7 linked regions of the Homo sapiens genome follow. The protein of the gene in region 3 purifies or fractionates together with the protein of the main gene of each other region. This does not show direct contact. Each region holds a gene or a part of one and is shown on either strand. Other genes may lie near its edges. The genes, in order: SDF4, DSC2, SLC20A2, MYEF2, MEIOC, ACOT9 and LRBA.

Region 1 (4,736 bases), on a different chromosome or scaffold from region 3:
TCTGGAGAGTGACCCTAACCCCATGGGTCAGTGGCATGATGCCAGGAGGGACAGAGCCGGGCCCCACAGGAAAGCTGTGCTGCAGGTGTTGGGCGATGGGGACAGGTTAGCCCCTGGAGGTGCTGACAGCTCGAGAGAGAGATGGAAAGACGGAGAGACAGGGCTGAAAACTCAGTGTCTGTAAAAAAAAGACCGGGCACAGTGGCTCACGCCTGTAATCCCAGCACGTTGGGAGACTGAGGCAAGAGGATCGCTTGAAGCCAGGAGTTTGAGACCAGCCTGAGCAATACAGCGAGACCCGTCTCTACAAAGAGTAAAATAAAAATAAATTACTGGGCGTGGGGGTGCACGCCTGTGGTCGCAGCTGCTCCGGTGGCTGAGGCGAGAGCATCACCTGAGCCCAGAGCATCACCTGAGCCCAGGAGTTCGTGGTCACGGTGAGCTGTGGTCACCGCTGTACTCCAGCCTGGGTGACAGAGCAAGACCCTGTTTCTAAAAATAAAGAAAAAAACACCACGTGTGGTCCGGAGAAAACAAATGCCACGTGTGGTCCAGAGAAAACAAATGCCACGTGTGGCCCGGAGAAAACAATGCCACGTGTGGTCTGGAGAAGGCAGTGCCACGTGTGGTCTGGAGAAGGCGATGCCACATGTCTGGATCCTGTGAATCGAGGATATGTTTCATGTTGCAGGATAGACGTGCTTGGGGAAGTCTTTGCTGAGTCTTGCTAATGATGTGTCTGTGTCTCTCTGCAGACTGTGAGCTGCTTGTCCCCATCCTGCGGCCGTCCTGGGGACACAGAGCCCTCCGTGGTGCCCGGGGATTGGATTGGAGCCAGGACCTCACTTCCTCCTCTGCCCCTGCCCCTGCCCCTCCCAGCACCTGGCCCACACCCTGCAGCCCGCCCCATGGTCTGGCCCTGGGTGGCGATGGCGTCCAGGTGGGGTCCCCTCATTGGCCTGGCTCCGTGCTGCCTCTGGCTCCTGGGGGCAGTCCTTCTGATGGACGCGTCTGCACGGCCTGCCAACCACTCGTCCACTCGAGAGAGAGTAGCCAACAGGGAGGAGAATGAGATCCTGCCCCCAGACCACCTGAACGGGGTGAAGCTGGAGATGGACGGGCACCTCAATCGCGGCTTCCACCAGGAGGTCTTCCTAGGCAAGGACCTGGGTGGCTTTGATGAGGACGCGGAGCCGCGGCGGAGCCGGAGGAAGCTGATGGTCATCTTTTCCAAGTAGGTGCCGCCATGTGCCCAGACTGGGGGGCTGTCCGCGTGCGCTCGCCTGTGTGTTCCTATCCTGGCTTTGCGCGGTGGGGGGCGCCGGGCCCTGTGTCGGGACCTGCCGGGCTGGGAAGACGTGCCGGTGATGAGCGCCACTTCCAGCCTGCTGTGTTTGCGCGGAGGCCTGCGCTGGCAGCCCAGAGCCGCTCCTTGAATGCCCTGGGTCCGCCGGGGGCTCAGAGGGCCAGAGTGGGCCTGTGTGGCCGTCCCTAGGACAGCCTGGAGGAGCCCACGCGGCACTGCAGTGGTCAGCGTCCTCCATGCTGAGGGGCAGACGCCGGCCACGGGCAGCCTCCGCAGGCTGCAGCCCCAGTTGGACGAGGCCTGGCTGAGGAGTGAGGGGCTGCCACAGGTGGCTGGAGAGCTGGTACAGGGTGCTCTGGGCTCCTCCTGACACGCCCTCTACCCTGTGTGTTTGGGGTCCCTGTCACACACGGGCCGCGTATCACACGCAGGCTGGGGGTGTGTGGGGTTGGCTTGTTTTGCTGGCCTGGTCGGGAGCAGAGCTGTGCTGTCAGTGGCCCATCCTTGGCCGTCACTGCCCCCACCCTGCTGAGTCCCGAGACCCTCTTGCTGCCTCTGTGCCTAGTGCCGAGCTTTCTCCCCCGACCCCATCCCTGAGTCTCGAGAGCCTGTTGTGAGGGGTCCAAGATGGGTCAACCTGACCACTCACCCACAAGGAGCCAGGTCCTGCACGGGCGCCTTACTCCTTACGGCACGGCCGGGGTGCCCTGCGGTGTGGCCCTGGAACCTACTTGCACTCAGCGCTGGCCTCACCCCTGGAGGCAGAGCAGGGTCAGGGCGTGCCCGTGAGTCCCCCAGGCCAGCCAGGGTGCCGGGCAGGGAGCCGAGGTGCAGGTGAGAGAACACCCTGGGCCTCCTGGGACCTGCGAGACCTGGGCACAAGGAGGCAGCCCCCGCCGCAGGGCCTGGCCACGAGCTCACCTTCCCGCAGGGCCTGGCCACGAGCTCGCCTTCCCGCAGGGCCTGGCCACGAGCTCGCCTTCCCGCCGGGCCTGGCCACGAGCTCGCCTTCCCGCCGGGCCTGGCCACGAGCTCGCCTTCCCGCCGGGCCTGGCCACGAGCTCGCCTTCCCGCAGGGCCTGGCCACGAGCTCGCCTTCCCGCCGGGCCTGGTGCTCCAGGACCAGTGCAGAGGGGCAGGTGGCAAAGCTGGTGAGCAAGGGGATTGGGCAGGGCTGGGGTCCTGGGGTGCAGGAGCAGGTAGGAAAGGTGTGAGGACTGGTCTGGCTGTGCCACGGCCCTTGGGCTGAGGGCCAGGCGGGAGGGCCCTGAGGATCCAGGCTTTCGGGCGGAGCACAGGTGAGCTGGTGGGACGGAGGCACGGTGCCAGCTGGAGGACCTGGGCACCAGGTGTGGTGTCCCCTTGCACCTCTCCTCAGATGGTACGGTTCGGGGGTCCTTGCGTGGCCTGAGTTCACTTGGTGGTGAGCTGACCAACCCACGAAGAGGCTGCTGGTGCCCCTGGGGCCTGTCAGGTTCACCACCCCTGAGCTCACGAAGGCCTGGCTCGCGGCATCACAGGGGAAGGGTCCCCGTCCCTGCTCAGCCGGTGCTGGGGGTGGGCTGCACGCCTGGGCGAGGGGAGTTGAGGCTTCTGCTCGGTGCGTCTCCAGCTGGACCGGGGTTTCTTTTTGGTGCCTGTAACGAAACCCCAAGCTGTCTCGTTTGAGGAGGTGGGCATGGGGAGTGGGAAGTAACAGCAGGTCTCCGGGTCTCCCTGACTCCTGCGCCGAGCGGCGACAGCGGCCGCTGTGGGTGTTTAGACTTCCCTTCCCACACGCGGGTCCCTTCTCGCCCTTCTCCTGCGTAGGGCCCCGTCCCTCCAGGACCCACGTTCACTCAGCTGTCCTGTCTCCTCTGTCTCCTCTGGGCTGGAACGGTGTCTCAGACTCTCCCGTTTTTGTGAGGACGTAACAGTTCTGAGAAGGGCTGGGTAGGAGGTTTTAGGCTGTCCCTCAGTTTGGGCTTGTGGGATGTGTTTTCTCCTGACCGTACAGGGTTGAGGGTTTCTGGAAAGAGCCCCCAGAGGGGAGGTGCCATGTTTCCTCCTGACCGTACAGGGTTGAGGGTTTCTGGAAAGAGCATCCAGAGGGGAGGTGCCCTGTCCTAGGGGCTTTTGAGCTTCACTTCCTTCCCGCTTCCCTGCACCACGAGATGCTCCAGGCTTTCCTTCCCGCTTCCTGGCACGGTGAGATGCTCTGGGCTCGCCTCCGTGCCACCTGCCCCAGTGCAATAGCTGCCGCCTTTCCAGGAAGCCCTGTCTCCCGTGGCTGGAGCTGGAAGCCAGGGTCTGGGCACTGGGCGTCTTGCCCTTGTTCTCTCAGGAGCCAGAACTTGATAACATGCGTGTGTGCACCAGCCCAGTCACATCTGTGTTCTGCCAGCCCTGTTCACGTGTGTGTGCTGTGTACACGTGGGTACCGGCCTGTGCACTTGCGTGTGTGCGTGCCAGCTCCATGTACGTGCACCGCCCTGCAGCCGTGTCTTCAGGCACCTGAGTTTGGATGAGTGACTCCTTGCCGACATCTTGACTGGAATCCTGCGCCATGTGGTTTCTTTCCACCTTTTTGCTTTTTGCTCTGCCTCGTGTGTGTCTGTGTCTGTGGAGTGTGTAGAGCGTGTGGAGTGTGTGGCCCGTGTCTGTGGCATGTGGAGTGTGTGGCCCGTGTCTGTGGCGTGTGGAGCGTGTGGCCTGTGTCTGTGGCGCGTGTGGAGCGTGACCGGAGCATTCGAGGATGCACGTGTCCACGTGAGACCCACCAGGTGCCCCACCTGCCACATGGCCACCCGGGTGGCCCCGTCCCCAGCCGGTGTGTTTTGGGGACTGTGGAGCTGAGGGTGCCTCCCAGGCCCGTCCACCTCTGGGCTGCTGCGGCTGCTGAGGGAGGGGCGCGTGTGAGCGGCAGCCTGGCCTTCTTCCATGAGGATCTCTGCCCAGTGCTTCTGAGCCGTGCCTGCGGTGTGTGCACCCTCGAAGCTTGCCTGGCCCAGGTCCCAGAGGCCACACCTGCCTGACGAGGGCCTGCTTGCCACCTCATAACGTGGCCGCGGCTGCCCCTGAGCGGAGCATAGAGGCAAGGGGCCAGGGCACCCTACTCTCGGGGATGCCTCCGGCAAACGCACCAGCCGGGGTCTCAAGACCTCGCACCTCTGGAAGCCCTGCCTCCCAGTGCTGTTGCCCTGGGGGTTAAGTTTCCAACAGGTGAGCTCAGGACACGGGCGGCTGCAGCAGGGGTAGGAGCCTGTGGCTTCCACAAAGACATAATGGTGAAGCCGAGCTCTGAAGCTGGGACGGGAGTGACCTGTCCTGGGGCCTGTGGCCTCCTGACCTGGCCTGCGCTGGCCCCGTGTCCCCAGTCTGTGTCCCTATCCCCCAAGTCTGTGGTCTCTTCCATCCTTGCACACAATGTTAAGTCCCCACACGGTCTTCT
Region 2 (4,736 bases), on a different chromosome or scaffold from region 3:
CTCGTGATCTGCCCACCTCGGCCTCCCAAAGTGGAAATTTCTTGTATTATCTGACTGGTTTTGTTTATGGGTATGAAGACTAACCATATTTTCATGGTTATTTCTGCTTCCTTACTTAAGTCTCTTCTTGTTTTATAGTAATGTAATGGTTGATTTGCTTGGGTTTTCCAGGTAAACAGTCATATCAAATGCAGAGATTTTTTTTACATCTTCCTATCTAATATCCTTCTCTTGCAAATATACCTTCAATATAATGTAAACTACATATAGTGACCTTGGAGAGCCTGTCTTGTTTCTGAGTTTAATTGGATTGCTTCTAGTGTTTTCCCATTTGTGTTGTGTTATAATTTATAAAGATCACATTGCAAAAGTACTTATCAATTCTTATTTTTTGAGACTAAAAAAAATAAGAATGGTTATTGAATTTGGTCAAGTGCCTGTCAGCATCTATGATGGTGATCACATGTCAAGCCTTCGTTAAATTCATGGCTTGAAGTTTCTGGACCAAGCAAAAGATGTGAGTGTGGATCACAGATCCACGCCAGGGCCAGTTTACTTGTGGCTCAAATTTGTAATGAAGATTTAGCATTTGGGTCCCAGATTAATGTGGAGCGGATCCTCTTAGATCTTAGGTGGGCCCTGTGCTTTGATTTCATTCTCCTTCTCTCCAGAGGCCAGCAAAGCAGAGTCAAATCTTTGCAGATCAGAAGTTGTTCCTGAGTTCCTCTTATCACTGTGTGTTCCAGCTTTATCTTCAGTTTTGGCCTAGCAATTGCTTGCTATTTTGTTAGCTCTTTGATGCTTTAGGATGTTTGAAAAATGTTATCCCTGATTTTTAATTAGTTTTGGCATAGGTTTTTCTTAATTACCTAGCTTGTTATTATTGAAAATGACAGTTTTTTCCATTCTCCACATTGGACAGATCTATCACATTCAAATATAAAGCTGCTTATTTAATTTATTTGCTCCAAGTAAATCTTTGGTTTCTCATTCTCGTTAGGAAAAAAGATCCATGTGCTTTGCTAATGCCGTTCAAAATCTGGCCCACACCCACTTCTTTGAGCCCATGTTATACCTCTGCCCCCGCTCTGGTACACACATCAACCATTCCAGATTTCTTCTTCAGGTCTGTGCCATCTCTGGGCCTTCACATATGCCATTCTTCTGTTTGCAGCATTTAAGCTCTGCCTCCTCTTAGCCTGTCTCACTTGTAGCCGCTCTTCAGGTGACCTCACCTGGCTTTTAGATATCACTATTACCTCTGCTCTCCCATAGCTCCCTGTACTTCCCTATCATTACATTTGTCTTACTTTGTTGAAATTACAAATATGTCTTACCTTAGATTGAATGTTTCATGAGGATCATGTTTACTGCTCTGTGTGTGGTACATGATACACATTCAGTAAATATTTGTTGAATTCATGCATGAATGGATGGATGTCCAAGATACTGTTATTCAAAGAATTGTCTTAATCCAACCATTTTTCATCTTCTCCAACATTATTACCTTAGCCCAAGTAACCATTACCCCACTCTTAGATTCCTGCTGTAGTCTCCCAATCAGTCTCTTGGTTTCCACTCTTGCTCTTCTATAACCTATTTTCCACATAACTAGTAGAGTGATTCTGTATAAATATCAGTTTACGCCACTCCACAGCTTCTTCATCAGGCTGTTGCTTCTCTTTGCACTCAGAACAAAATCTGCACTCCTTACCATGACCTTTTAGACCCTACATCATTTGCCATTGACTGTCCTTTTGTTTTCTTCTCCTGTCACTCTTCCCTCGCTGTGCTCTGCTGCTATGACCACCTTGTTTCTGCAATACACAAGTCTCCTTCCAGGGTCTTTACTCTGGTTCTTGCCCTACCTGGAAGACTCTTCCCTGGTTAGAAAACTGGTTTACTTCCTCACTTCATTTACGCTCAGGTATTCTCGTTGTCACCCTCTCTCCCTGCTTTATTTTTGTCGTGACATTTATCTCTCGCTGCCTTGGCATTATGTGACATTTGTGCATTTGTGTATTTCTTTTGCTTCTTATTATCATGTAATCTTCGTGAGGCAAGGACTTGGCTTTGTTCACTGCTCTAGCCATTGAATCCGTTTAGCACCTACTAAGCAACCAGTAAATGTTGGTTGAATGAATAAGTGAATGTATTCTTCCAATCACCTTGAGCTGGAATCTTCAGAATCATCTGATTCTACTCCTATTCTCTCTTGGCTATGCAGCCAGTGAAAATTCTTCATATCATTTAATTTCCAGTTCAAAACTAATGTCTTCATTGTGTCTATCCCAACATTCCAAATGAAACACAACCTCTGCCTTATTTGATCCTTCAAATGTAATTAAAACTGGATAATTTAAGTCTTTAATATATATTAAAAATAAACATTTCCATCCAAATTTTGATGATTTTAGTTTATATTTATAAACTTTGTAAGTAACAGTGTAAATGCTAGTTAACTGTCTTGCTTTTGGTCAAAGATGTTTGTAAAACTAGAAAAAAAGAATGTGAATCTTTGAGAAACATCCATTGTAAAGTTTCAGACAGAACAAAATTAAATTTCAGTGTGTTTACGTATATGTTGCATTGGACTTGGTTCACCATGAATCACTAAACCATTGAAAATTTTTAAGTAAATTATTTTCTAAAATGAACTTAACTTTTATTTATGAGAAGATACACCTTCAAAATAATTTTATATTTCAAAGTTATGTGCCTATTGTGTGGAGTAACACATAAATATTCTCCAAATCACTTCATGGCAATAAGTTAATGTTTGTCTTTAAAAGCATTTACTTTTTGTTTAGGATATTATTGATTTGATATCATATCTCATAAGCAATTAAAAATGTACTGAAACAGTTTGCTGCCTCAGTAAATTTGGTTTTCTCTTTCCTATGTATATACCTGTGCTGCCTTCCTGATAGTTTTCAGCACTCTCCCACCTAGGCTGTTGTTGGATCGTCACTGTACCCACTGAGTTAATCAGTGAAGTTATTACATACGTTTTACAATATAGTAAACAAAGCTGAAGAGCATACATAACTCTTTGAGTTTACAAGCTTTTTGCAGGAGGAAGCTAGAACTCAGTATATTGTTTTATTCTTCTCCTTGATATATTTTTGTCCTGATTTCTTTCTCCAATATGTTTTTATTTTATCTCCAATATTTTATTTATGTTTTATTTATAATAACATAAATCACATATAATTATAAATATAAATTCATGTATTTATATTTAATTAAATATTTTAAAATTAATATTTAGTGTAGTCAATATGTAATATAATTAACATTTATATAAGTATTATATGCCTTTTTATGTGTATATCATTATAAATTTATAATTTATATAAATAATATACACATTAAAGTTTTCTTTTTATGCATAATATTTATTTGATTTTTTTTCATTTTTTAGATCTTAATATTTGCCAGTGATGCCTGCAAAAATGTGACATTACATGTTCCCTCCAAACTAGATGCCGAGAAACTTGTTGGTAGAGGTAAGGAAGCCCTAAAATTTGTAATAAATCCTGTTTTGCTGTGGTACATATACGCCATGGAATACTACACAGCCATAAAAAGGAACGAGATCTTGTCCCTTGGAAGGGATGTGGATGGAGCTGGAAGCAATTATTCTCAGCAAACTAACACAGGAATAGAAAATCAAACACTGCATGTTCTCACTTATAAGTGGGAGCTGAGCAATGTGAACATGTAGGCACAGAGTGGGGAACAACACAAGTGGGGCTTGTTGGGGGTTCTGGGAGGGCGAGAGCATCAGGAAAAATAGCTAATGCATGCTGAGTTTAATACCTAGGTGATGGGTTGATAGGTGCAGCAAACCAACATGGCATGTGTTTACCTATGTAACAAACCTGCACATCCTGCACATGTACCCTGAAACTTAAAATAAAAACACACATACAAAATAAATCCTGATTTGCTGTGGTATTTTAAAATTAGTGTAATTTTTAGAATGATAACTCTGTTGGGACCAGTAGATAAAACTAATGTAGTATATTATCATTTGTAATATTTGTGGTGTCATTCTAATGAAAGGAATATTGTTATTTTTGGAAAACATGATTATATGAAGTTGATAAAAATATTTCACTTGAGTAATAATTATTAACATTTACTTTAGAGAAAAGATAAAGACATTTAACATGCCTCTAAAAAATTGAGAAATAGTACTGAAACTGTTTTTTTTAGTTTAAAGATACTGTTTTTGGATTTTTATTCTTAAATATTTCACTCTGTATTGTATTTTTTTATCAATTAAATTATTTCACATAATTCTGTAAGAAAAGATCAATCCAATGATAGCATAAAATGTGATCACTGTTTAGCAATAGATGTAAAGAATTTAGTAATATTTTCATTTAGCAAATGCCAATTTTCATCTGCTAGATTCTGTATAACTTCAGGTGTATTTAGGTGTTACTCTATAGCTTATTTCTGTTGATAAAGAAAAAAATTGTTTTGGTTTTGGTTTAAAGATTCAAACACTGGAGCTCACATATGTTTACTTCAGAGCAAATGTCTCTTCTTTAAGAGAATGTTAAGTAGGTATTAGAAGTGATGTAAGTATTTAAGCACAACTTAATTCACCATATAGTTTTATGTGTCCTTTCAAAAATTTACAAGTGTCAGTATAATGAATTTTAAGTTTTTGGCTCTCCCCACGTGCATACATTACTGTTAAAACTATATCCTATGTTTTACTT
Region 3 (3,864 bases):
CCAAAAAGACATTTGATGATATTCAGTATTTCTTTTTTTTTGAGACGGAGTTTCACTCGTTACCCAGGCTGGAGTGCCATAATGGCATGATCTCAGCTCACCACAACCTCCACCTCCCGGGTTCAAGCAATTCTCCTGCCTCAGCCTCCCGAGTAGCTGGGATTACAGGTGTGCAGCACCACACCCAGCTAATTTTGTATTTTTAGTAGAGACGGGGTTTCTCCATGTTGGTCAGGCTGGTCTCGAACTCCTGACCTCAGGTGATCTGCCCGCCTCGGCCTCCCAAAGTGCTGGGATTACAGGCATGAGCCACCGCACCCGGCCGATATTCAGTATTTCTAAAACACTACTAGAGTTCGTAAGAGTGACCAAGTCCAAGGTAAAAATAGAAAAATCCAGCACTTGTTCATCAGCAATAGCCAATTAGAAAATGTAACGGGAGGGAAAAAAACTGCCACCATAATTGCAGCAAAAATAAAAGTTATCTCAGAATAATCCTAATAAGCACTGTGAGTGTCATCAGGCACATGGTGTGTTCTTATAGTCCCAGCTACTCAGGAGGCTGAAGGTACGAGGACAGCCTGAACCCAGGAGTTCAAGACCAGTCTAGGCAACATAGTAAGACCCCATCTCTAAACAACTAAATAAATAATTTTTTAAAAAAGAAATGTGAGTGATATATATGGAAGAGGCACAAAACTGCTCAGAGGTATAAAAAGATAATCTGAATATGAGACGTAATGTGCTATTGGATGGGAAAACCAGATGTTGTAATGAAGTCACTTCTCCCTAAATACAACCTGAACAGGATTTTACTTGGAATTTTACAAAACGAGACTAAAGAATACATTTTGGTGAAATAAATTATCAGCAATATAAAATGATCTAACAAGAAAACTGAAAGGAGGAACTAGCCTTACCTGACGTATAATGTCATATAAGGAAACAAAAGTCAAGAGTAGGTCCTGGGAGGAGGGGCTAGAACTGGGTGTTAGTGTTTTATGGGGCAGTTTCCCCGTGGGATGATGAAAAAGTTCTGGAGACAGATTGTGGTGATGGTTTGCAAAACAATGTGATTGTACTTAATGCCTCTAAATGGTATGCTGAAAAATTACTAAAACTGTAAGTTTTATGTTATGTATATCTTACCACAATAATTTTTAAAAGTAGATACCTGGATAAGAACAGAGTAGATAGCAATGGATGGAACCTGTTCTATATGAGCATGTATTTTGAAAAAGGGAAAATTTAACCAGTAAGTGTTTGAAAGGTTGAATAGCTGACTGTCAGTCTAGAAAAACAAAATTAGACCACTCTCAAAATACATGAACATAAATCTGATGGCTTAAATAATATTTTAAAAATATTCTTAAATTTAGAGTAAAATGGAATTTTATTTTAGAAAAATAAAATGGAATTAAATATTTATCAAATATTCAAGCCAAGGATAAATCACAGAAGAAAATTATAGCATATTTTATTGCATGAAGTTAGAAACTTGAAAGTGAAACAAAGCAAAATACTACCTTAAGAAAATGTGTATTCGATATCACAGAGTTAATATTATTCAGTGAAGACTACACATAAATAAATAAGGAACACATTAGATTTTAGTATGTAAATGGACAAAATACATGAAGAGACAATTTTTTTTTTTTTTTGAGACGGAGTTTTACTCTGTCACCCAGGCTGGAGTGCAGTGGTGCCATCTCGGCTCACTGCAACCTCCACCTCCCCAGTTCAAGCGATTCTCCTGCCTCAGCCACCCAAGTAGCTGGGACTACAGGTGTGCACCACCACGCCTAGCTAATTTTTTGTATTTTTAGTAGAGATGGGGTTTCACCCTGTTAGCCAGCATGGTCTTGATCTCCTGACCTTGTATCCGCCCGCCTTGGCCTCCCAAAGTGCTGGGATTACAAGCATGAGCCACTGCACCTGGCCGACAATTTGTATATGTGAAAGCTAGAGAGAGTGAAATTCAGTAAATATATTTTTTAAAGTTCAGCCTTAATTGTAATTAAAGATACGCAAATTAAAACAGCAACAGTGCATCTTTTTGTCGGTTAATTAGCCAAAAAAAGAGCAACTTACATGATATCATGTGCTGATATTCACAGATTATGGATGACACTACATTAACAGCTATTTATAAAACTATTTGTCATTATGTATTAAGGTCCTAAAACACGTTGGGAGAGGAAAGAGCTCTTCCTTGAAGTAGAACTCCATGTGAGAAATTGCAATGGACTTTGGTAAATCACCATTTTATTTTATTTATTTTTTATTTTATTTTTTTTTGAGACTGAGTCTCATTCTGTTGTCCAGGCTGGAGTGCAGTATCGCGATCTTGGCTCACTGCAACCTCCACCTCCCAGGTTCAAGTGAGTAGCTGGGATTCCAGGTATGCACCACCACACCTGGCTAATTTTTTTTATTTTTAGTAGAGACAGGGTTTCACCATGTTGGTCAGGCTGGTCTCGAACTCCTGACCTCAGGTGATCCACCCGCCTCGGCCTCCTGAAGTGCTGAGATTACAGGCGTGAGCCACCATGCCCGGCCTGGTAAATCACCATTTTATAGCCATCGTCATAAACATTGGATTGTGAAATCTTTAGCAGAAGGGGAAAGTGAGGTTTGATAAGATGCAGGATATTTTAATCATATTAAAAAGTCTCTTCACAGATTGTGGCAAATGTCAAAAAATAGTGAATTGGGTAAAGAGAAAACAGGAGTTCTTGCAGCTTTTCTCTAAGTTTTGAATTATTTCAAGATACATTTTAAATGTTCCCTGTTAACTACAGTCGATTTCAGGGAATTTTTTTTTTTTTTTTTTTTTTTGAGACAGAGTCTCTCTCTGTCGCCCAGGTTGGAGTGCAGTGGCATGATCTCCGCTCACTGCAAGCTCAATGCAAGCTCCGCCTCCCAGGTTCACGCCATTCTCCCGCCTCAGCCTCCCAAGTAGCTGGGACTACAGGCGCCTGCCACCACGCCTGGCTAATTTTTGGTATTCTTAGTAGAGACGGGGTTTCACCGTGTTAGCCAGGATGGTCTCCATCTCCTGACCTCGTGATCCGCCCACCTCAGCCTCCCAAAGTGCTGGGATTACAGGCGGAAGCCACCGCGCACGGCCGGGAATATTATTTTTAAAGCCAAAATCCAACCTGGGCACAGTGGCTCACGCCTGTAATCCCAGCACTTTGGGAGGCTGAGGCGGGCCGATCACTTGAGGCCAGGAGTTTGAGACCAGCCTGACCAACATGGCGAAACCCCATCTCTACTAAAAAATATGAAAATTAGCTGGATGTGGTGGTGCTTGCCTGTAATCCCACCTACTCAGGAGGCTGAGACAGGAGAATCGCTTGAACCTGGGAGACATAGCTTGCAGTGAGCTGAGATTGCACCACTGTACTCCAGCACTTTGGGAGGCCAAGGAGGGAGGGTCACTTGAGGTGAGGAGTTCCACATCAGCGTGGCCAACATGGTGAAACCCCGTCTCTACTAAAAATATGAAAATTAGCCAAGGGTGATGGCATGCGCCTGTAATCTCAGCTGCTCAGGAGGCTGAGGCAGGAGAATTGCTTGAACCTGGGAGATGGAGGTTGCAGTAAGCTGAGATCACACCACTGCACTCCAGCCTGGGTGAAGAGTGAGACTGTCTCAAAACAACTATATAAAACAACTATATAAAGAGCTATATGCTGAAGAGAAGAATCCCCAAACAATTCTACCTAAAATCTAAGCTATTTTAAAAGCTTTAACAAATGTAGGGGACTGGGTAATGTTGTACTAGAGCTTGTTTCTGAGATTAGCCCATGTACATTGGTAGAGTGTAGCCTTTGTGGCTCACCTGTTTTTACTTTGCAA
Region 4 (4,736 bases), on a different chromosome or scaffold from region 3:
GAGAAGATAAGTGTTACGTGCCATTTTTTTTTTCTCTTTGGTAACTTTTCCTGACTAATCAGCAATACATTCTAAAATGTTTGGTAAATTTATACACTTGAAGGAAAAAAAGTCCTCTGTAATTTCACCATCTGTGGGTAACCTCATTATAACATTTTTGTGTATTTTCTTCTAGCCTGCTATGTATATTTTTTACATAGTTGGGAACAAAAATAATTTTGAATTATTTTTTGTTTAACATTAGAGTATAAGCATTTTTTCATGTTGAAGATTCTTTTCAAATATTTTTATTGGTAGTATAATAGTCTATCATATAGATGTTCCATAACTATTTCACTGTTCTGTATTTTAGGTGTTTTAACTTTTCTTTTGAGTAACCACAGAGTAACACATGCCTTTTTGTTCACAAATCTTTGTAATGTTTTTGAGTACTTCCTTCAGACAGATATTCTGAAGTAGATTTACAGTTCTCATGGGTTAGTATTATCAAATTGTTTTCCAAAATGACTATAACAGTGTAATATACTTATTGTATTATGTGTCTCAGTGCCTCTGTGTCTCAGTGCCTCCTTTGAAAAGTGGGGAGAATAATATTGTCTACGTCATGGGGTTGACATGAGTATTACATGAATTAATATATGTAAAGCACTTAGAATCATTTTGGCATAATGTAAACACTCAATAAATATTAGCTATTGTTTTTACTATTTCACTGCATCTTCTCTGGTTTTTAAAGTATTCTTATAAGAAATCTTAAATATACAGACAAAAGTAAAATTACTCATATAGTTATCATATGCCATATTTGTTGTAGATTTTTTTCTTTAAAATAAATAAAATTTTATGGTAAAATGGAGCTTCCCCATCTCCCTTGCCCATCTTTCAACTTATGCCTTATCCAGAGGAAACAACTTATGGATAGAGTATTTATCATTTAGGTTTTAATAATTTGACTACACATTTGTACATCCATAAACATAGGGAATTGTTTTGTTGGATTTAAAATTTTGTTTGAGTGATATCATAATGTATTATGTAACTTGCTTTTTTTTTTAAATTGTTTTTGAGATTCATTTATGTTGATAGATGTAGCTCTAGTTTCTTCATTTTAACTGCTGATACCACATTTTATACATTTTTCTGTTTTTTAGGTTATTTTAATTTTTAGTTATTGTGTATTAAGTTGGAAAGTATTTGCTATTTTTTATCAGAATTATATGTTCTCTTTATATTTGCTAGAAATTATGTGTAAAACTGGCCTTCCTCTGTTGTTTCTGGGAAGTTTTTAACTACTGATGGTTTATATTTTCTGTCTTTTTTTTTTGAGTCAATTTTTGTAATTTCTATTTTTCTAAGGATTTTTTCTGTTTTTGTTCATTTTCAAATATTTTGGCTTAAATTATCTCTTAAGTTTTTGCTACATCTATGTTTCTGTTTTAAAAATTCTGAATGCAATTTTTATTTTTTTCTTGGTTAATTTTGTTAGAAATTTGTCGGTTTTAATAGAGTATTCAAATAACTGAATTTGGATGTTTTGTATTTCTAATTTCTGCACTTAGCCTTATTATTTTTTCCTTCTATTTATTGGGGTTTAGTGTGTTTTTGTCCTAACTCCTTAAGTTGAATGCTTACTTCAAATTGGTAGCTTTTCCTTTCTAATATAAGCATTTATGACTATAAAGTTAGTACATGGGTTTTGCTATGGAGCATTTTTATGATGGGTCAGTTTTTAGAGTATTTAAAAATTACCATTATGGGCCGGGCATGGTGGCTAACACCTGTAATCCCAGCACTTTGGGAGGCCCAGGCAGGTGGATCACTTGAGGTCAGGAGTTCGAGATCAGCCTGGTCAACATGGTGAAACCCCGTCTCTACTAAAAATACAAAAAAAAGTAGCCAGGCATGGTGGCGCATGCCTGTAGTCCCAGTTACTCAGGAGACTAGGGCAGGAGAATTGCTTGAACCTGGGAGGCAGAGGTTGCAGTGAGCTGAGATCGTGCCCCTGCACTCCAGCCTGGGTGACAGAGGGAGACTCTGTCTCAAAAAAAAAAAAAAAAAATTACCATTATGATTTCTTATTGAGCCATGTATTATTTGAAAATGGAAGTTTTCAATTTCCAAATGTATGAGTTTTTTTTTTTTTCCTTTGTACTTTTTCATTTTAATGTGGTCAGAGAACATGGTTTATATGTGAGTGTGATTCTTTGGAATTCATTTGGACTTATGGATGGCCTACCATATGGCACATTTTTCTTAAGTATTCTGGGTACAGTTGGTGAGTGCAGTGATCTATATGTGTTCATTAAATCAAGTTTGCTAATCATTTAAATTGTCTTAGATCCAATACTTTTTCTGCTGTAACACTGTTTATCTTATTATCTTATGTGTCTGGTAAAATTGCCCAATAGAATAGTGGATTTGTCTACTTTTTCTTGTTTTTACTTAAATATTTTTAAGCTAGCTTAGTAGGTGCATCTAGATTAGAATTGATATATTTTCCTAGTGAATTAAAAATTTTATTGGGTGATTTTTTTTCTCTAGTAGTTACTTTGAGTCTTTGGTCTCATTTTAATGTAAGTACAGCAGCTTTATTTTGTTTAGTACTTGCCTGGTACATTTTTCCTATTTTTTTACTGTTTCAGGCATGCCCCTTATAAAGGGTGTTATTGCTGGGCTTAGACTTTTTAAAAAAATCACTTTGATAGTTTTTTTCACCATGAAATTGAAGAGTTCAATTTCTTCACATGTATTGGTTCATTTGGATTAATTTCCATTATATTGTGTCTTATTTTTTTGTCTTACAAATACTTATTTTACTCCTATCTTGGATTCTTCTGGATATTTTAATATTTCTGTGAAGCCTGAAGTTAATATAATTATTCTTTTATGTAATAGTAGAGTGACCTTTGGATACAGTCACTTTCCTACTGAATTATACTATCATTGCTCAGCATTTTAGTTCTGTATTATTAGTTCTGTACTATTTTTTTTTCTGTCCTGCAAATTAGACAATGTTATTTACCATTTTCTTGTGTCATCACTCCTCTGCTTTTATAGACTCTGGCACTAATTTTTTTCCCCTGAAGCATATATGTTAGAAGCTCTTTTAAGTGAGGATCTTTTATTAGTAAATTCTCTCAATTTTGGGTTTTAAATGTTTTCAAAGATAGTTTAACTTGTATAAAGATTGATAATTATTTTCTCTAAGCACTTTGAAAGTATTCTACAGTCTTCATGTTTACACTGTTGCTATTAAGTCAGCTATTTGTTGAATCGTCCTTTCTTTATAAGTAATCTGTCCTTCCTGTGCAGTTTGTGCAGTTTGACAGCAAAGACCAAAGTCTTAAAATCAGCTACATGTCATTATGCAAGCAACCTAAGGTCTCAAAAATTTCCTCTTCTATGGACAATAGATGTGGAAACACTTAAGGTGCCATATAAATATAAATAAATATTTATATCAATGAGAAAACTAGGTAATATAATATTTGCCTTATTCAGTGTTATACTTTCATGGTTATTGACTTTTTAGTTTGATTTGAACCATTTAAAAAGTAATTATCAAATTTTAAGTGGGTCTACAAATTTGGGCAAGATACTCATTTTCAGATATGTGTGCCATATATAAGGTGATATGATATTATTCAAAATCCTCTAGGTATTTTATTATTCCTCTCAGTGTACCTTTAAGTGGGGTATAAGGTGTACTTTGTATTATATCATGTTTTATTTCATAAAACACTTCTCATTAATAAATGGTTTTATAGTCGGGCTTCAGTGTGCTACTTTCTAGACAAAAACAAGAACCAGTGCTTTTATATGAAAATTTGCAGAAATTTTACAGATACTACTACAGGTATATAGCTTTTTAAAAAATTTTATTGCCAATTAGTTAATCATATATGGATCTTTGTAATGATTGTTCTCATTTTTGTTTTAGGTGGTCTTGGAGGCATTGGGATGGGACTTGGTCCGGGTGGACAGCCTATTAGTGCCAGCCAGTTGAACATAGGTGGAGTAATGGGAAATTTAGGTCCAGGTGGTGAGTATTCTAACTTCCTCTTTTCTTTTTAAATGATACATATGCTAGCTAATAAAGCCTCCATTGATGTGGTCTGTAATAATGTTTAAAGGACTCTAATTAATAGTTAGATATTTACGGTGTCACTTCATTCTGAAAAAGGAATGAAACCTTGAGCACAGCTAACATGAAAGAGATAGGCAGAAGTCAGGAGGGTTTCTTTGGGGCCAGCTATGTTGTAGCTAGCCTTTTAGCATTTTGGATTTTGAAATGTCTTGAAGGCAGAAGGAGAATATATCATCTATGAACAGTATTTATGGAGTAGCTGAAATGCTACCATATCATAGGCAGCTAAAATCTGTTTATCCATTTGGGAAGGTGGCTTTTCAGGTAGTTATTTGGCTGCTCACCTGGAAGAACTCACAGTTCATTTTTAGAGATTGGTTTTTAAACTTTGGTGTTAGGACCCTTTTATATTTTAAAATTTGTTGAGAACCCGAAAATGCTTTGTTTATGTAGTTATAATTACCAGTATTTACTGTATTATAAATGAAAAATTAGAAATTAAAAAAATTACATATTAAAAAATGATAAACTCATTACATGTTAACATACATAAAAGTTTTAAGAAAATAAACTATTTTTCAATGCAAAAAAGAAATTGGTGAGGAGAGTGGCATTGTTTTACCTTTCCACACATCTTTTTAATGTTTGG
Region 5 (4,736 bases), on a different chromosome or scaffold from region 3:
ATCCCTGGTATAAAGCAAGCTTAAGTCACTAAGTCTGCATTTGAATGTAATTCTCCCAACTCTTACATCTGTGTTATTTCCGCTTTCTTATTTTTCTCATATTCTACAACAAATGAAGTTTTGATGTGTCTGATAAACATTTCTTAAAACTTTCAGAGTGAAGACAATGTAGACCTAAGGCAGACCTATACTCCATTTTCTTCAACAGAATATTCAAGTTCTGTAGATTCTTCACTTTTCTGTGCACCATGGTCTACTTATGGAGATGACATTAAACAACCTTCTAATTCTCAGATCAGTATAAAGAACAGGTAAATTAATTCATTTCTCAAGGTAATTGAGGTATTTTTAAATTTAATTACATAGGAACTGAGGTTATTTGCTCTCTGTTCCCTACATTATCATTTTACTATTGTGGCATTTTGTGTTTTTCAAACTTTTAGGAAAGTGTAAACTGGGCAGTTATTTGTGTATAGTTTTTACGGTGTTTTGCTTTGTTTTGTTTTGTTGAGACAGGGTCTCGCTCTGTCACCCAGTCTGGAGTGCAGTGGCGAGATCATGGCTCACTACAACTTTGAACTCCTGGGCTCAAGCCATACTCCTGCCTCAGCCTCCACAGTAGCTGGGACTACAGGTATGCACCACGGTGGTCAGCTAACTTTAAAAAAATTTGTTGCCTTTTCTTTTTAAGAAACGAGGTCTCACTTTGTTGCCTAGGCTGGTCTTGAACTCCTGGCCTCAAACCATCCTCCCACCTTGGCCTCCCAAAGTGCTGGAATTACAGACATGAGCCTCTGCCCAGCTAGGTTATTACTTAAAAAAATTCATTAGTGGGAACATTTAGTGCATAAATCTTAAGTTCTTCTTTCTAAAGATGACTTATATGAATGAGTTAAAACTTTTAGATGTTTTTGTCATCCAGTTCTAAATTTTCCATTTTTTTCCTTCACAACTCTACAACAAACAGGGTTTTATCAAACATAAGATATTTTAAATTATTTTTCTGTTCAATTCCACAAATAATAAGGGCCCCCTGTACATCAGATGCTTTTCTATGGGGGATACCAGAATTTAAACATGGCAAATATTATCCTTGCCTTTATAATCTTGATGATGATGATGATGATGATGATGATGATGATGATGACGATAACTAGGATATTATGGGAGCCTATTGCAAAGAGGAGCCCTAAGGGAGTGACATCTATCTTTAATTATATATGGGAGCTATTTATAGAGGCTGATGCCTCATTAGTCTAACCAGGAAATAGTTATTTGTATTTATTAGAAAAGTGTTAAAAAATTAAAATTCTTGGCAAATTCTCTAAAATAATTTTATTAGAAAGTCTACGTAATACATAATTCTACAAAAAACAAAAATATTTTTAAAGTTGATACATGCTATTGAAAAAATTCAAGCCTATTCTCGCTTTTGGCTAAGATCAAGTGAAAAAATTCAAACTTTTCAGAAATATATATCAAGAAAAGTGAAAGTCTGTCTTAACCTTCTCCCCCCGCCACCCAATAACAGCTGCTAGCAGTTTGGTATATATTACATTGAATTTTTTTTAGATATATACTAATACATAATTACACAAAAAAGCTTTTATATTGAACTTTTATGAGATAACACATGTAGTAGAAAAGGTATTGGACTTACAGGGAGACTATTTAGCAAGTATGTAGTAGTTTGGCAAGTCATATACCCTTGCAAAATACAAGTTTCTTAATATCTCAAATGATCATTCATTTATTCAACAGATAATAACGAATGATTACTAATGCTTACCTTTCCAATGTTATGAAGATCAATTAAATATGAGTGTTATGCAAATATAAGGTATTTTATTTCAAAAATATCCCAACACTATGAAATGTTGAAATATGAAAAAACCGGAAGTTACAATTTATTATAAAACAATGTACAGGGCCGGGATTGGTGGCTCACGCCTGTAATCCCAGCACTTTGGGAAGCTGAGGTGGGCAGATCACAAGGTCAGGAGTTCGAGACCAGCCTGACCAACATGGTCAGGCTGAAAATACAAAAAAAAATTAGCCAGGCGTGGTGGCACGCGCCTGTAGTCCCAGCTACTTGGGAGGCTGAGGCAGGAGAACCGCTTGAACCTGGGAGGCGAAGGTTGCAGTGAGCAGAGATCGCGCCATTGCACTGCAGCCTGGGGAACAGAGCGAGACTCCATCTCAAAAATAAATAAATAAATAAATAAACAAACAAACCAACAAATAGATGTACAGGTTGAGCATCCCAATCTGAAAATCCGAAATCCAGACTGATCCAAAATCCAAAACTTTTTGAGTGCTGACATGATGCTCAAAACAAATGCTCATTGGAGCATTTCAGATTTTGGATTAGGGACGTTCAACCAAATATACAAGTATACATTATATATTTGGAGTATAATGTATATTTCCAGAATCCAAGAAAAAAACCTGAAATCCAAAACACCTCTGATCCCAAGCATTTTGGATAAGGAATACTCAACCTGTATTACTTCAAGGAAGAAATTACCCAAAAACTGTAACAGGTAAAAGGTACCAATCTTCCACGTGCTTGTGGTTTTTACATTTTGTATTTAGTCAGTATCAGTCACTAGGTGGATTTCTGGGATAAAAGGAACTCCATCCAGTCATGCTTTGCAAGCATTAGGGATGGCTCCCAAATCTGTTACATTTAAGCGACAACTGCAAAATTGCTGTGGTGTCTAGGATGACCATATCGCATTTCACTTTTTTATCCAATATTAATATAGAGTCACAAAAATAGAATAGAGCATCAGGTTCATATGGTTTTCAAATTGCAAATGAGGAAGCTGAGCAGGTGTTGATGGAATAATGTATAATAAGACAAGACTTGCTTTCAGGAGCAGCTATGATACCAAGCATGTCTGTGACATCATAGATGACAGATTTATATCTTGGTCACCTAAAATGAAAACCATGTGTTGTGGAGAAATAAGAGGTAAGCATGCACTGTAAGTTAGATATAGGATTTGAAATGAAGGAGAAATATTTATGTGGAAAAGACATTTCCACATAAAAATATTTATGTAGAAAAGAAAATATTCTTGAGTTCTAGTCTCTTCTTTATTTGAAATGATGGTGTAGATTCAGTCCACATATTTTATAGATAAAGATGGTAAGGTAGGATAAGTCTGGAAAGAGTAATCAATATATTGTATTTCAGCACGAATTCATTTATTTTTAGGATTCAAACAGAAAGAAATGACTATGGCAGTGAAACAGACTTATATGGACTTGTGTCTAACATTTTGGAAGAACAAGATAAGTCACAGCCATATTTTGCTGAAGGGTTAGTATATAATCTATATAGTATATAACAGGCTTTTAAACTAACATACACTAGTTTACCCTGTTTATTAACTTTTATTTTTACTTAATAGTGGATCATCTGACAGTAGGTATCTTAATTCAAATATTGTTTCAAGGAGACTTGATTTTGCTGAAGTATTTGCTATATAATTGGAAGTTCAGTCTAAGGTTTTGTATAAGGACTTTCATTGAAAAATTATTCTTGCATAATTCAGAGCTATTTCCCTTGAGTTCATGAACTAAAGATTGGCTTAAATAATATAAATTCAAAGGAACTTTTATACATAGATCCCAAAGAATAAAACTCATTACTACTATGCAGAAATACATATGGATTTTATTCATGTGTTAGAAAATTTTGTAATGTTTCAATTGTTTTATTGAAGTGTGGAAGCTATATTACCCAAATATACTATTTCATAAATAGGGAAGTATGTAGCACACATATAACCAATTAAAATATTTTAATTTCACAAAGTTTAAGCAAAACACATTTTTTTCATTAAAAAAAACTGTGGTCAACAATGCTTTTATGTAATAACCTAAGCAAAGGAAAAACTTATTTTCTGCTTACTATAGATAAATAATTCATCTAAGACCATGAAGTCACATATTAGGCCTTAGTTATTGTCTCTTGGGAAAGTACAGCGAAGACATTAAAATGCATATTTATGTAACATACAGCACATTTCATGTGACAGATAATTATCTGGAGCTAATGGTAGCTTATAAAGCAGAGTTGAAAGGGATTAGAGAATGGTGACATGGGGCAAGATAAATGTTTTTGAAGACCTTTTCTCCCTTTTCCACTGAAGAAATAAAGTCTTTAAAACCTAAGTTGTAATTAAATATATTTATTTGTTCTAGGACCTGCTCCTCCAATTTAAAGTCAGTTTGGCCAATGAACACAAGCAGATTTGCAGATCACCATGACCTCTTAACAGAAACCAAAAGGCCAATAGATACAGTCATCTCTCAGCAAGCTTTTTATAGTGATGAATCTGTGTCAGCAATGGAAAAGCAATACCTGCGTAACAGTAATCTCACACCACAACAAAAAATAGATGAACTTCATCATGGATTTACTGGTTTAGATCTTGAAGAACAATGGATGTACCCCTCACGAAGTGATCATTCTAACTGTCACAATATTCAGACAAATGATACAGCTAAGACAACATTCCAAGAATATCCACTTATCAAAAACTGTTTTACACCCCAAACTGGTCTGTCTGATATCATGAAAGAATCAGGAGTTGATATCTACCATTATGGAAGAGACAGAATATGTACTAAAGGTCTTGAAGCACCACTACAGCAAAAAAGGGCAGAGATGTTTCTTTCTCAATTTAATAGATACAATGAAAATGTAGATTATTGTAGATACC
Region 6 (2,361 bases), on a different chromosome or scaffold from region 3:
ACCACAATAATAATAGCTGCTTATGCTTATGGAGCATTGCCATGTGCTAGATAGGCACCATCCTCAGCCCTTGGCAGGTCTGAGCTCCTTTATTTCTTCCAATCAACACTATGAGGCAGGTTCTGTAACCCCCCTTAGGGTTAGGCCACTCGGGAAACTGAAGCACAGAGAGTTTAAGTAACTTCCTGGAGGTCCGACGCGTAACATGTGGAGGTGCTGGGATTCAAAACCAGGCAATGTGGGTCCCGGGCACTCTTGACCAGTGCCTGTACTTCTTCCAAGGAATAGAGCAAGGGAGGTCATACCGAATATCACAGTGTCACCTAGGAAGCCCAAGGGAGGTATTCCCGTTAATCTGCAGCCAAGGCCGGGCGCGGTAGCTCATGCCTGTAATCCCAGCACTTTGGGAGGCCAAGGCGGATGGATCATGAGGTCAGGAGTTCAAGACCAGCCTGGCCGAGATGGTGAAACCCCGTTTCTACTAAAAATACAAAAATTAGCCGGGCGTGGTGGCGGACGCCTGTAATCCCAGCTACTCGGGAGGCTGAGGCAGAGAACTGCTTGAACCTGGGAGGCAGAGGTTGCAGTGAGCTGTGATCATGCCACTGCACTCCAGCCTGGGTGACAGAACGAGACTCCATCTCAAAAAAAAAAAAAAAAAAAAATCTGTAGCCAAGACCGTTCCTTTTTTGACAGGAAGGTAACTTAGAAGAAAAAATAATCTCTGAAAAAAGTCCTCCCAAGAAGGAAGCAATATTTATTGTGGGTTCTACATTAGTGTTCACAAACTTGGCTCTGCCTCAGAATTAGGTGGAAAGTATTTTTGTGTGTGTGTGTGTGTGTGAGACAGAGTTTCACTCTGTCGCTCCAGCTGGAGTGCAGTGGCATGATCTTGGCTCACTGCAACCTCTACCTCCCGGGTTCAAGCGATTCTCCTGCCTCAGCCTCCTGAGTAGCTAGGATTACAGGTGTCAGCCCCCATGCCTGGCTAGTTTTTGTATTTTTAGTAGAAAGGCGGTTTCACCATGTTGGCCAGCTGGTCTCAAATTCCTGACCTCAGGTGATCCACCTACCTTGGCCTCCCAAAGTGCTGGGATTATAGGCATGAGCCACTGCACCCGGCCGGTGGAAAGCATTTTTAACAAAAAATTTTTAGGCCAGGCACAGTGGTGGCTCATGCCTGTAATCCCAGCACTTTGGGAGACTGAGATGGGAGGATCGCTTGAGACCAGCCTGGGAAACATAGTGAGACCCTTTCTCTACAAAAAGTTAAAAAATTATCTGAGCATGGTGGTGTGCACCTGTAGTCCCAGTTAGGAGGCTGAGGTGAGTGGATTGCTTGAGTCCAGGAGTTTGAGTCTGCAGTGAGCTATGATCATGCCACTGCACTCCAGTCTGGGTGACAGCAAGACCCTGTCTCAAGCAATTTTTTTATATTAGTTTATGTAATGTTTATTGAAATCACAGTGTCAACAAGCACCTCTGGCATGAAATAGTCACAGGAGCGAACACAACTATCTCTTGGAAGCATGCAGTTTGACTCATGGAATCAAGCATGTGCTGTACTATAATAACTTGTCTCTCCATGCCGTAATGCCATCCTGACTGAGATTTACCTGGCCCTTCAATATAGCATTTTGCATATCTACCTATGACATGATGGGAGGTGGCTAATGGGGAGGGATGCGCCCTGGGGAGTTTTGTGAATGTGTTAAGTGGAGTTAAGAGACCTACTGCATGCTATTGTATAGATTATACATTATATATTTAACCATTTGTTGCTGTACAGTGAAGCTTTTTCTAGTATTTCTTTTTTGCTATTATAAACAATGTTGCAGTAAATATCCTAAATACTCTAAAACATTTGACCCTTAAATTATTTTCTTTGGAAAAATATTAAATGAGATATTTAGGTCAAATAGTAGGCACACGTTGAAGGCTTTGAATATGTATTTCATGTAACCCTTCAGAACAGTTTCACACAATCACTTACACATCAGCAATTTCCCTGAACTTTGCCAATTTTTATCTTTTCTTTTTAAAATATCTTTGCCATTTTGATAGGTGAAGAATGACCTTCTGCTGGATGTGGTGGCTCACACCTGTAATCCCAGCACTTTGGGAGGCCAAGGCAGATTGCTTGAGGTCAGGAGTTCAAGACCAGCCTGGGCAACACGGTGAAAACCTGTTTCTACAAAAATACAAAAATTAGCAAGGTGTTGTAGTCTCACCAGTGCGCCAAAATGTAGCAGTCTTTGGTTGTCTGAGATAGTATCCGGAGTTCTTTGTGTCACAGAGCACGAACACAAGGGTGAGGTTGGAGCAAAAGTTTAGTAAGCAAAACAAGAAAGCTCTCGGCTG
Region 7 (4,736 bases), on a different chromosome or scaffold from region 3:
TTTTTGCTCTAAAGTAGTGCTTCTGAAATTTTAAGGAGATACATAAACTTAAGGTGATTAAAAAACACAAGGTGATTCATAAATTTGATGATCTTGTTAAAATGCAGATTAGATTATATAGGTCTAGGCTGGGGTGGTGGCTCACACCTGTAATCCCAGCTCTTTGGGAGGCCAAAGTGGGTGGATCCCCTGAGGTCAGGAGTTCAAGACCAGCCTGGCCAACATGGTGAAACCCCGTCTTTACTAAAAATACAAAAATTAACCAGGTGTGGTGGTGCACGCTTATAATCCCAGCTACTTGGGAGGCTGAGGCAGCAGAATCGCTTGAACCTGGAAGTTGGAGATTGCAGTGAGCCAAGATCACACCACTGCACTGCAGCCTGGGCAATTGAGCGGGACTCTGTCTCAAAAAAAAAAAGGGTTATAGAGGTCTAGGGTAAGGCCTAAAATTGACTACCAAGTCCCAGGTGATGTTGATGCTGCTTTTCTTACAAACACACTGGAATAACAACGTTCTAAACTAGCATCATTCAAGTACAGCCTTTATTCAAAAAAGCTGTGGTAATTTGTTAATGCAGTTAATAAAATCATGAAATCTCTGTTCTTCTCCTGGAAACACTTCTTCCCTAAGTAAAAGTAAAAATACATGAAATGACTTTTTAATGTTAACTGGACTTCTTAGGTGAAGCAAAAAACAAAACAAAAAAACCCTTTTTTGCATAATTTTCCTTCTATATAGTTGTAAATATCGAGACTTTGTTAAATGATTTGATTATTAAGTGAAGAGAAGGTGGTGAGGAGAGAAGGCACAAGAAATGGAAGCAAACCATTAGGAGCCATGGTCATATGAAGAGATAAAGCACCTATGAAAACATAACATGGAAGTGGAAAATGTAGTTAATGACATATTTTTTCATATTTAGCAAGAATGTCTGTTACATAAACTAATGTATACCTGTGCTTTTTGCCACAAGTATAATTTTTACTCAAAATGCTATTCAAAGTATTTAATAGTATTAGTTTAAATGTAAAATTCCAAGTATTTTATATTTAATAATCAATGGTATATCTTGCTATTCTAAGTAACTTGGAATAACAATTTATAGACAGTTGTTTTAAAATTTAAGAGACATTCTAATTGTAAGCATAACAAAATAAAAGTTATCATTTATTGACTATTGTCATTTGTCATTGTTGATTTTCACGGTGACAATTTTGTTCTTTTTATTCATGAGGAAATTGAAGATAAAAGAAATTGGGAAACTTATCTATAGCTAAAAAGCTATAATTGGTGAAGGTAGAATTTGAATACTATACTTTTGTCTAACTAGTGCTCCTACTCTTTCTATTGTAGTATACTTCTTTAATCTATTAGTATTATAATTAAAATATTTAGACTTTATTGCTTTATGTGTGCCATTTTCGAAGGCTTTTCACTTTCCTAGAAAGAGTACATTTCTAGAAGTAAAAGTGCAAGGCTATACTAGCAAAGCCTTACTCAAGAATCATCAGATTCAGAGGCTAGGGAAATACTCTATGTTCCTAGTTTTTCATAGCCACGGAAAAGAATTAAGAGATAATTTAATCCACCCCAGTACCATCTGTTCTTATATATGGAAATGGGACTTAAAAAATGACTTGTCCAAGATCATTTAATAGAGTATGGTAAACAAAGTAACAGTCCAAATGTGTGATATCTTTTTTTTAAATTGTATTTGTGTAAATTTATGGGGTACAAGTGCAATTTTGTTACATACATGGATTGCTTAGTGGTGAAGTTAGAGCTTTTAGGGTATTCATCACATGAATAACACACATTGTACCATTAAATAATTTCTCATCATCAGACCCCCCTCACCCCCTCATCCTTCTGAGTTCTGAGTCTCCATTTTCTTTCTTTTTTTTTTTTTGGAGATGGAGCCTTACTCTGTCGCCAGGCTGGAGTGCAGTGGCAAGATCTGGGCTCACTGCAACCTCTTTCTTCCGGGTTCAAGCAATTGCCCTATCTCAGCCTCCTGAGTAGCTGGGACTACAGGTGTGCCCCACCACACCCGGCTAATTCTTTGCATTTTTAGTAGAGACGGGGTTTCACCATGTTGACCAGCATGGTCTCGATCTCCTGACCTTGTGATCCCCCCGCCTCGGCCTCCCAAAGTGCTGGGATTACAGATGTGAGCCCCCACCGCTGGCCTGAGTCTCCATTTTCAATCATTACGCACTCTACTTCCATGTGTACACACTATTTAGCTCCCACTTATAAGTGAGAACATACAATATTTGTCTCTCTGTGTCTGACTTGTTTCACTTAAGATAATGATCTCCAGTTCCATCTATATTGCTGCAAAAGACATGATTTCTTTCTTTTTTACGGCTGAATATTATTTCATTGCGTATATGTACCACAGTTTCTTTATCTAGTTATCTGTTGATGGACACTGGTGTCCTCATTCTTGTTTCCTGAGGTTGGAGTTAGAAGTTAGGATGACAGCAGTAAGAGTAACTGATTGAAACCAGGAAATGAGGTGTGATTTTTAACTTTGTAATACAGACTCAAATTTGATTTTATGCAACTTGTGAAAAAGTTTGTATGAAAAGTATTTCCTGGGTCTGATAGCAAATTTGATAAAGTAAAATATTTCTTGGGTCTGATAGCAAATTTGACAAAGCTGTATTCCATATTCTCTCTTCCCTCCTCTTGTTCCCTCCTTCCTTTCTTTCAACTTTTATTGCTCTCTTTGGGCACCTTTCAGAACACTTTCTTTCTAAATTCTCATGCCTGCTAGCCATGTGATAGGCCAGTGATTCTTTGTGAAGTCCCCCCTTAAGTTTGCTATTTTGTTCCTAATTTGCTCTCCCTCCTTTGCTCAGTTCAAGTACCTTGAGTGCTACAGATTTGGAGGGAATTTAGATGATTACATGGTATCAAGCAATTCATAGTGAAGGGTACATAATGTAATTCATCATTTAAAATCCAAAATTAATTTCTAAGTAATCTAACTGCCTGATTCGTGGGAGCCTTAGGTAATTTTAGACTGTATATTAATCAAATTCCCTTTCCTGTCTCCCATTTTCTAAGCAGTTTTAATGAAAGCTAGTAAATGCTGGACCCTATAAAGCTTCTTTCAAAAGCTATATCCTCTATTAGTCTCAATTAATATCATGCTGTAATGATGCAATATAAGAAGAACATCAAAGTTTCCAGTTTAACTAATTTACTTTAATGATGGTAATAGAAGATTGTTACCTCGACTAGTTCATGGTAATGTACTTTGTTCCCTGTTTTCTTCCATTTCTTTCAATTCTTTTCTTCCCTATCCTTTTCTTAACTAAAGATTGTCCCAGCTAGCTTAGTTGAGATCTAAGAAATAGTAGCCTATTGTTAAGATTCCTGAACTGATTTCCTTTCAGCAAACCCTAAACGTTTAGACCACTAGGCCATACTGCCTCCCTAAATCTTAACTGGGCCACAGCATGGAAGCTAACAATATCAGACAACCAACACTAGGCGATAAAGTCTAGGGACATTTTAGGAATAAGCTGAATGTCGTCTGTTTTGAATAAAATCTTATGTAAATCATATTGTGTAGTTGATGTTTTTCACTTCCATAATCTTAAATATTAACTTTTCTTTCCCTATCTTTTCCTTAAAATAAATTACAGTTTGTGCAGTCGCAGTAAGGAATTGCTTGGAGTGTCAACAGCATTCACAACTGAAAACTAGGGGAGATAAAGCCTTGAAACCAATGCATAGCCTTATTCCTTTAGGGAAATCTGCAGCGAAGGTAAGTATACAGATTAATTAATTTTCAAAAAGCATACTCCTATTTTACAATTAAGATTTTTATTTGTTCATTTCAACATAAAGTTAAATAAATCTGGCAGAGATTAAAATAGTTACTTTAGGCCTGCATATAACATTCAAATATTTGTGTTTAAATACACAATAAAGATTTGTTTATATTTAAACCTCTCTGCTTTTCCCAGTGTTTACTTTGATTGTTTCTGTGATGCCTTTTCCTTCAAATATGTCATTTTTTCCTGCATGCCATCTTTCTCCACCTCTCTCCCCAACCCCTCAAAGAAGAAGGAAGCATACACACAAAAAAAGTGGGGAAAGGAATGCTATAGCTTTGCTTTTCTGGTTCTGGGAATACTGTGTTTATTTTTAAAGAATATCTGTGTAATGTATATATGAATATATATATATACAATTTTTTTTTAATCTTAAATAGAGCCCAGTGGACATTGTGACTGGCGGTATATCTCCAGTAAGAGATCTTGACAGGCTTCTACAGGACATGGATATTAATCGGCTTAGGGCAGTTGTTTTCAGAGACATAGTAAGTTACAATATGTCTTTCACATACTCTCTTAACTGATGCATATTTCCTCTTAGGCCTAATGTATTGAGATTAAAAATTCTTTGTGATATCAAATAGTGGAGCAGAGATAGAAAGGTCTAGAAACGACTTCTTTTGACAATGATTTTAGAAACAGAATATTAGAAAAGATAGTTTATATAAAGCGAGCTAGCAGATCAGCATAGTGATATTAAAAGGAATAATGCATTATTACATAGTAAGCAGTCTAAGTGATATACATGTATTAATTAAGTCCAACAACTTATTGAGCTGTACTATTGTAATTTCCATTTTATAGATGAATAATCTAAGGCACATAAAGCTTGAGTAACATCTCCAAGCTAGTGTTGATAAACAATGATAAAATCAGGATTC

What was found.
Region 1: the proteins of SLC20A2 (region 3) and SDF4 purify together in Homo sapiens (affinity purification with mass spectrometry; one large-scale study listed by BioGRID and IntAct). This does not show direct contact.
Region 2: the proteins of SLC20A2 (region 3) and DSC2 purify together in Homo sapiens (affinity purification with mass spectrometry; one large-scale study listed by BioGRID and IntAct). This does not show direct contact.
Region 4: the proteins of SLC20A2 (region 3) and MYEF2 purify together in Homo sapiens (affinity purification with mass spectrometry; one large-scale study listed by BioGRID and IntAct). This does not show direct contact.
Region 5: the proteins of SLC20A2 (region 3) and MEIOC purify together in Homo sapiens (affinity purification with mass spectrometry; one large-scale study listed by BioGRID and IntAct). This does not show direct contact.
Region 6: the proteins of SLC20A2 (region 3) and ACOT9 purify together in Homo sapiens (affinity purification with mass spectrometry; one large-scale study listed by BioGRID and IntAct). This does not show direct contact.
Region 7: the proteins of SLC20A2 (region 3) and LRBA purify together in Homo sapiens (affinity purification with mass spectrometry; one large-scale study listed by BioGRID and IntAct). This does not show direct contact.

The regions. Positions count from the first base shown.
Region 1 is NC_000001.11:1,224,966-1,229,701, reverse strand, and holds part of SDF4 (45 kDa calcium-binding protein isoform 2 precursor), read left to right. Parts: intron 1-755; 5' UTR 756-908; coding exon of another isoform or gene 909-929; coding exon 930-1,234; intron 1,235-4,736. UniProt on the Homo sapiens protein: May regulate calcium-dependent activities in the endoplasmic reticulum lumen or post-ER compartment. Isoform 5 may be involved in the exocytosis of zymogens by pancreatic acini.
Region 2 is NC_000018.10:31,092,332-31,097,067, reverse strand, and holds part of DSC2 (desmocollin-2 isoform Dsc2a preproprotein), read left to right. Parts: intron 1-3,424; coding exon 3,425-3,509; intron 3,510-4,736. UniProt on the Homo sapiens protein: A component of desmosome cell-cell junctions which are required for positive regulation of cellular adhesion.
Region 3 is NC_000008.11:42,417,983-42,421,846, reverse strand, and holds part of SLC20A2 (sodium-dependent phosphate transporter 2), read left to right. Parts: intron 1-3,864. UniProt on the Homo sapiens protein: Sodium-phosphate symporter which preferentially transports the monovalent form of phosphate with a stoichiometry of two sodium ions per phosphate ion.
Region 4 is NC_000015.10:48,153,098-48,157,833, reverse strand, and holds part of MYEF2 (myelin expression factor 2), read left to right. Parts: coding exon of another isoform or gene 1-54; exon of another isoform or gene 55-707; intron 708-3,940; coding exon 3,941-4,042; exon of another isoform or gene 4,043-4,736. UniProt on the Homo sapiens protein: Transcriptional repressor of the myelin basic protein gene (MBP). Binds to the proximal MB1 element 5'-TTGTCC-3' of the MBP promoter. Its binding to MB1 and function are inhibited by PURA.
Region 5 is NC_000017.11:44,662,161-44,666,896, forward strand, and holds part of MEIOC (meiosis-specific coiled-coil domain-containing protein MEIOC), read left to right. Parts: intron 1-156; coding exon 157-311; intron 312-3,223; coding exon 3,224-3,328; intron 3,329-4,215; coding exon 4,216-4,736. UniProt on the Homo sapiens protein: Is required for meiosis completion in both male and female germ cells. Confers stability to numerous meiotic mRNAs in gonads allowing proper initiation and progression into meiosis prophase I.
Region 6 is NC_000023.11:23,700,555-23,702,915, reverse strand, and holds the end of ACOT9 (acyl-coenzyme A thioesterase 9, mitochondrial isoform a precursor), read left to right. Parts: 3' UTR 1-1,861; downstream 1,862-2,361. UniProt on the Homo sapiens protein: Mitochondrial acyl-CoA thioesterase. Catalyzes the hydrolysis of acyl-CoAs into free fatty acids and coenzyme A (CoA), regulating their respective intracellular levels. Regulates both mitochondrial lipid and amino acid metabolism.
Region 7 is NC_000004.12:150,843,704-150,848,439, reverse strand, and holds part of LRBA (lipopolysaccharide-responsive and beige-like anchor protein), read left to right. Parts: intron 1-3,660; coding exon 3,661-3,782; intron 3,783-4,232; coding exon 4,233-4,340; intron 4,341-4,736. UniProt on the Homo sapiens protein: Involved in coupling signal transduction and vesicle trafficking to enable polarized secretion and/or membrane deposition of immune effector molecules. Involved in phagophore growth during mitophagy by regulating ATG9A trafficking to mitochondria.